2 linked regions of the Homo sapiens genome follow. The protein of the gene in region 1 purifies or fractionates together with the protein of each later gene. This does not show direct contact. Each region holds a gene or a part of one and is shown on either strand. Other genes may lie near its edges.

Region 1 (3,750 bases):
ACAGAGTCATGGAGGTCTGGCATGGCTTAGTGATCGCGGTGGTGTCCCTCTTCCTGCAGGCCTGCTTCCTCACCGCCATCAACTACCTGCTCAGCAGGCACATGGGTAACTGGCTCAGCATCCTCTTCCCTCCTAGTCACTCTCAGAGACCATTCTCGAGCCTCCAGCAGGACAAGACCCCTTTGGAGTTCCCAAACGTCACTCAAAAACCTACCAGAGGACCCACCGGCCAAATTCCTTCCCACCGCTCCCCCTCCCCCCAATAACTGTATCTGGGTAATCCCCACTCTGACCTCACCTTTTAACCAACTATTTCTGGCTGGAAGTGGCCATCCACATCCGTCTACTACCCAGACCTTCTGCCTAGACACAGCTTTTGCAATGCCTACGAGGAAGTGCTCGTGTAACCTGGTCTAATTAATTTTCTTCATCCCTGTTAAAGGACTGAATATGAAGAAATGTCCTTGAATTACAACAGAAGGAAATATGGTTGGACTTAGAGATTAGTTTAAATTCTTGAACTGATAAACAATAGAAGGTAGTGAAGCTCGGTCCTGGAAAGGCATTTCAATTAGGGAAAATAAAACAATGCTGCTTTGGTTGTGCTAAGAGAAAGGACGGGGCAAGATGATGTTTTGAGGGTCTTTCTAGTTAAGTCTACCTTCATTCATTCATTTGTTCATTCATTCATTCAGCAGATATTTCTTGAGCATCTAAGACACTCTCTGGGCCTAGGCTACACAACAGGGAACAAAACAAAAATTCCTACCCCCGGAATCTTTCATTCCATGTGACAACAAACAAGATAAACAAGTAAAACATGTATATGCTAGATTATGGTAAGTGCTAGGGAGGAAAAATGGAACAAGGGAGTTGATACAGCTTGGTGGATGGCTGGCATCCCCAAAAGGCTAACCTTTGAGTATAAACTTGCAGGGAGTGAGGCGTGAACTCTACCTGCAAAGGCCTGAAGGAGGAACGTGTTAGGCACATGCTAGCAAGAGCAAAGAGGCTGGGCAGCTGGAGCAGGCAGAGAGAAGCAGGAGAAAGCCAGAGAGGAAGGAGGAGTGAGGCCTCGGAGGCTGGGACTTGGCTTTTTCCAAGTGAGGCGTGGAACCATGGCAGGGTTTTGAGCACAGCAGTGCTGAGGTTTGAAGGGATCTTTCTGAAAGGTTTGCTTTACTGAGGGCAGTGTTCAACAGGCGCTGATTCAAGAGCCGATGTGCCTAACCCAGGCAGCTTCCACTTTTTTTTTTTTTTGAGATGGAGTCTCACTCTGTCCCCCAGGCTTGAGTGCAGTGGCACAGTCTCGGCTCGCTGCAACCTCTGCCTCCCAGGTTCAAGCAGTTCTCTTGCCTCAGCCTCCCTAGTATCTGACATTACCGGCACGCATCATCATGCCCAACTAATTTTTGTATTTTTAGTAGAGATGGGGTTTCACCATGTTGACCAGGCTGGTCTCGAACTTGTGACCTCAAGTGATCCATTTACCTCAGCCTCCCAAATTGCTGGGATTACAGGCATGAGCTACTGCGCCTGGCCAGTTTCCACTTTTGATCCCTGCCCTCTCCCTTCCAGCCCACAAGAGTGAACAGATACTGAAAGCGGCCAGTCTCCAGGTTCCCAGGCCCAGCCCTGGCCACCATCATCCACCTGCTGTCAAAGAGATGAAGGAGACTCAGACAGAGAGAGACATCCCAATGTCTGATTCCCTTTACAGGCGTGAGTAAGGGGTTGGAGGGAGAACTTGTCTAGGGACTAACTTTGCTCTCTCTGGACACCCAGGACCTCCCTGCAGCAACCCCATGGGCCCAAACCTCTAGCCTGAGGATTCCTCACAGCCACATCAGGACAGCCTTGCCAGCCTACTTTTTTTCAGAAAGGTGTTTTATTCTATTTCGTGGGGAAGATCATTCTGAGTTTGTGTGGGTCTAAGTTCTTTCCCGGGTTTAGTCGTGTGCAAATGATTGCAGGCGGCTTGGGAAATGTCCCTGCTCTTCTCTTTGTAAAGCCATGGCATCTTTTCTTCGGATTGATCAGCTAATGGTGGAGTTAAAATTTCACCTGCCTCTGCCTGCCTCCACCGTGGCTGCTGCTATGTCAGTGTTATTGGCTGGCTCTGTAGCTGGCTCCTCCATAGTCCCTAGAGGGACCCTTTTTCATGGTCTTAGATCTGCATGGGTATCTGAGTGTATAAATGTGAATCTTGCTGCTGGTTCAAATCTATATCACCCTCCTGCAAGTGAGCCAATAGGTCACTATTCACAGTGGAAGTGGCTGCTTTGGCAACAAGGCAACTCCCTGATAGGGGCTCACTCACCAGAGATTGCACTTCTTCCACTGGTTTGTCTCTTGATTGGTTTGAATTTGCTCTGTCCTGATTTTATCTTTTCAGTTGAGACATGGCCTCAGTGCCTGCCTGTGGGGACCTGAGGGTGCTGCTCATATGCATGTTTCAACAGAACTGGAGAGGCACTGGCCTTACCCTAACCCCTGGCCCCAAAGCTTCACCAGAGCCTGGCTAGAATCAGAGATTGTTTAGCTGTCAGGGACCTCAGAGACTCTTGTTCAACCCTCTTGTCTTGGGGGTGACGAAAACCAGGGCACAAAAAGAGATGTGATCTGCCTAGATTTAGTGACAGCTTTGGACTAGAAGGTGTAACTTCTGAGGCCAGAGCTGTTTGCATTGGGTCACATTGTCCCAGCATGTTCCTCCTGACTTTTCTTTCTGGAAGACAGCCCTTTCCAAGCACAGTCAACCTAGTGTATTTTTTAACATTAGTTTTAGATGGAGTTGAATGAAGCAGCAGTGCTTGGCCTCTTGGACATGTCCCTGCCTATTTTTGGAGACTTTCTCTCCCCCTACTCTTCCCCTATTCTGTTTCTCCTTCTTCCTCTTTTGGGGTCTCTGTATCTCTCTTCCCTACCCCCCCTTTTTGTTGCTGGCTCTGCCTCTGTCTTTATCTGATAATAAGACAATTCTCCCTTCCATTGTCTCTATCCTCTCTTAACACCCTCTGGCTTGCTTTGGAAGAGGAACCGTTTCTATTTCTCCCCAGATGACAGCGACACACCCTCAGATAGCTTGGATAGCTCCTGCAGTTCGCCTCCTGCCTGCCAGGTAATGGATGTGCCTAGTGATCTCAGACGAACATATGCAGTCTGGGGATCCCTGCTGTAAAACGCTGAAAACTCAAGTTACCCCAGCTATGTAGTGGGAGCAAGAAAAGAGGGTTTCTTGAGTCATCACAGCATCCTCAGGTGAGGGGGGGTCAGGCTTCCACCCATAACCCATATCTGCATGGATCACCCAAACAAAGTGGGTCTGAACAGACTGTAAAAATGAAAGTGCTAATGGGAAACCCTCTTCTCCCCACACCCCAGTTGTTGGGCTCAAGTCTGCTCTGAGTCCTGATCTCCCTTGAATTGAGTCTCAGCATCTTCCTGTTGCCTCCACCTGCTCGTCTGTAATCCCATTCCCTGCAGACAGGTGGAACAAAGTCACTGGTAATCTTCCTCATTGCCCTGGACTGCTCCCAGACACAGCTATTTGGACCCAGATCTTCCCCACCAAGCCATGGGCGAATCTTGTTGAGTAAGAGTTCAGTCCTGGGGTCTTATTTCCCCCAAACGTGGTAGGGATCTTGACCCACATGTCTCTGCTTTTCTCCTAAGGCCACAGAGGATGTGGATTACACACAAGTCGTCTTTTCTGACCCTGGAGAACTAAAAAATGACTCCCCGCTGGAC
Region 2 (3,750 bases), on another chromosome or scaffold:
TTGGATAAGTCTGTGTTCTTCTTCATGACTTCCAGGGACAGACGTGAACCTCTTTAAAAAAAAAAATTAGGGAAAATACGCAATTTTTCTCTTAGAGCCCCTTCCAGCAGAGAAACTTATTATTCTTAATGAAACATGTCTACTGTCTGTATAACCTTGTTTCTTTTCTTTCTTTCCTTTTTTTTTTTTTTTTAATTGACATGGAGTCTCACCCTGTTGCCCAGGCTGGAGTGCAGTGGCATGATCTCGGCTCACTGCAATTTCTACCTCCTGGGTTCAAGTGATTCCCCTGCCTCAGCCTCCCGAGTAGCTGGGCCTACAGGTGCCCACCAGCACACCCAGCTAATTTTTGTATTATGATACAGGCTGGTCTTGAACTCCTGACCTCAAGTGATCCGCCTGCCTTGGCCTCTCAAAGTGCTAGGATTACAGGCATGACCCAATGCGCCTGACCCCTGTATAACCTTATTTCATCCTTATTTCATGGACCGAAGGCCATGATCAAATAGGTCATGTGCATAGAGTCATTAAAATGTAATTTTACAAATGCAGTGCACAGCCTTATTTGGGTCCTGGATTTGGGGGAAAACATCTATAAAAGACATTTTGGGGATAACAGGATAAATCTGAATATGAAGCATAACTTAAATGACATTATATAATTAATTTTCTTAGGTGTGAGAATAGTGCTGTGATTATATAGGCACATGTCCTTATTCTTAAGACATACCTGCAGAGAAGTATTCAGGGGTGAAGTGTTATGATATCCAAAACTCATTTTCAACCAGCAAAGTAAGTGTTACATATTAACAATTGATAATGCTATGTAAAGGTACAGATATGAGCCTCTTTCAAGAAAAGTTAGGGAAAATATAATATGCAATATTCCTCTTAGACCAGAAGCTCCAGTGAAATTCAGGGATGATTATTATCCAAAAAAAATTAACCTTAATGTGGGGTAACATTAGTGTAATTTCTTGCCACTAACCATGATTTTTTAAATGGAAGCAGATCTATCTGTTTGTAGCAGATCTATCTATTGTTGGTTATAAGATAACCAACTCTTAAATCAGGTCTGTGCTGTAACATAAGACTAATAATATGTTTCATACAACAGAGGTCTTGTCTGTTGGAATAATTATTTTCCATAAAGGCCATGTGCTCGCTTTTAAACTTTTCACTCATTTTTCTATTTATGCTCTAATCAGGTTTTCCGGTGCCTTCCCAATGATGAAGTACACAATTTAATTCAGCTGAGAGACTTTATAAACAAGCCCGTATTAGCTAAGGAAGATCCCATTCGAGCTGAGGAGGAACTGAAGAAGATCCGTGGATTTTTGGTGCAATTCCCCTTTTATTTCTTGTCTGAAGAAAGCCTACTGCCTTCTGTTGGGACCAAAGAGGCCATAGTGCCCATGGAGGTTTGGACTTAAGAGATATTCATTGGCAGCTCAAAGACTTCCACCCTGGAGACCACACTGCACACAGTGACTTCCTGGGGATGTCATAGCCAAAGCCAGGCCTGACGCATTCTCGTATCCAACCCAAGGACCTTTTGGAATGACTGGGGAGGGCTGCAGTCACATTGATGTAAGGACTGTAAACATCAGCAAGACTTTATAATTCCTTCTGCCTAACTTGTAAAAAGGGGGCTGCATTCTTGTTGGTAGCATGTACTCTGTTGAGTAAAACACATATTCAAATTCCGTATACCAAAATCCATTTCCTTTGTAACAAGAATTTACCAGTAACTGTGATCTAGGTTGCCAAAAGTTGTCTGAATCTCCTTATTCTTCTCTGATCTTCATTTATGCAGCCAATGTCTAGCTGGACCTGCCCTCATCTTGCAGTTCATACAGGCACTGTTTGAGAGATTGTTTATTATTAGATGTTGTAATGCTGCTTCAAGATTCTTCATGGTTACATGGGATGCCCCTGCTCATCTGGTCCTGAAGTAGTAACATTCACCCAAATGAGGATATAGTCATTATTCCTTTTCAGTCACTGTACGAACACGGCAGACTTTAGCCTACACAGTAGACTGTGTTAGGCACTTCTGGTAACATTGACACTGTATCTTGACACCACTAAGCAACAGGAAGGAATAAATTCCAATATTGAGACAGAGATTTATTTCATTTTGCTCCCAAAGGCACTGACAACATGAGTCCTTGTGATTAGGCCCACCTGATCAAATGTAAAAACATGCATGGGATATTTGATTACGTAACAACCAGCTAAAACTGAGAGCACACAGCCTTCGGAAACCCCCAAGGTGTCGAGGAGGATCAGATCCAGATAAGAGAAGATGATTCCTTCTAGTCCTGTAAAATTTCCTGTCATCCTTAGCTGCTGGGTTGATTGAAATTTGATCTCTACATTTCAAAATCAAACTAGTGAATACAGTTTGTCTTTCAAGAGAATCAGAGGCATCGTAACTCCTACCAAGTTAGTAAGTATGAGTCTAACCTTGTTTGACATTCAGGTCTTCTGCTACATTATCTTCTTTGAGAAAAATTAATTGATTATAAAATATGTGCTACTTCACTTACATTATTAAATATGTATTAACGCCTCTCACCAGGGCTTCCAGTGAAGTTACAATGCCCTAGTCTGTGAATTAGTCTGGAAACGTGTTTTTCCTTTTCGGATGTTAGAGTACCCTTTGATAAACTAAATTTTACTAAGCTGAACAACTCTGACAGTCTAAAGAGCTAATGTGGGTTACCAAAAGGCCTGTACCTGTAAAACAAAATGCAGGTGTAATGATTATACATGTCTATGGATTACCTGGACATACTCTCATTTGGGTTGTTCTTCAAAGAAGCAAGCAGCCGATCCCTGTTTTCATAAAGCTAATACTTCAGTTGGAAAAATTAAACAGGAGCACAAAGTCAGGGATAGGGGTTAGCAGAAGAGAGAAATAGTGTCACATCAAGGGCAGGATCTCATAGCTAGGGAACATTTCACAAATAAGGTGAGATTTTGTAACCAATAATAAAAATGAATGTTTTTATAAGTAAATAACTTATTTTTCATATGGCTAAAGATGGTAAAATGACTTCATTCTATAGCCATTGTAAATAAGAATTTGCTATTGATGAAAGAAGTTCAGATTGGCATTTGAAGTATTGAGTGTATGGGATCTCTAAGGATTTCTTAGATTTTATATTTAAATATTTTTTAAACCTTAGAGGAGTCAACAAACTGGCTCTTGATTTTCAGCACCCTACTCTCATGAAAAAAGCCTGAAAGGACCCTTTCCCTTATAAGTAATTTAATCCAATTTCTCCCCATTTTATAGATGAGGAAACTGAGGCTCAGATCAGATGAGAACTCACTTAAATCCACTCAATGTGTAGATGGTAGAGCTGGGACTAGCAACATTGCTGCAGCCCATTGTTGGCCTCTCTCTTCACTTTATCATTGCCCAAGAATGAGGATATGCAGTAAACAGAATTCAGGCAAGATACCTCTAAGCTGTTTTGAACCCTCTGATATTTTGTATTTATGTGTTTGTCTGTCTCCCCCTACTAGAATGTAAGCTCCATGGGGCAGGGACTTCACTGTATTTTGTTCATAGTGTATCCCCAGAGCCTGGACCAGTGCTTGGCACATAGGAGATGGCAATAAATGCTTGTAGAATTAATAAACAAGGTGAAGGAGAGAGCTAATGAAATGAAAATCTTAGTCTCATATAAGAAGTCTTACTACTGCTTTCTATGGCAAGTTCCTTTTCTATTGCATCTT

The links.
Region 2: the proteins of RHEX (region 1) and PLD1 purify together in Homo sapiens (affinity purification with mass spectrometry; 3 studies listed by BioGRID and IntAct, with this or other methods). This does not show direct contact.

The regions. Positions count from the first base shown.
Region 1 is NC_000001.11:206,098,077-206,101,826, forward strand, and holds part of RHEX (regulator of hemoglobinization and erythroid cell expansion protein), read left to right. Parts: intron 1-4; coding exon 5-105; intron 106-1,578; coding exon 1,579-1,722; intron 1,723-3,059; coding exon 3,060-3,121; intron 3,122-3,675; coding exon 3,676-3,750. UniProt on the Homo sapiens protein: Acts as a signaling transduction factor of the EPO-EPOR signaling pathway promoting erythroid cell differentiation.
Region 2 is NC_000003.12:171,600,761-171,604,510, reverse strand, and holds part of PLD1 (phospholipase D1), read left to right. Parts: intron 1-1,208; coding exon 1,209-1,433; 3' UTR 1,434-3,750. UniProt on the Homo sapiens protein: Function as phospholipase selective for phosphatidylcholine. Implicated as a critical step in numerous cellular pathways, including signal transduction, membrane trafficking, and the regulation of mitosis.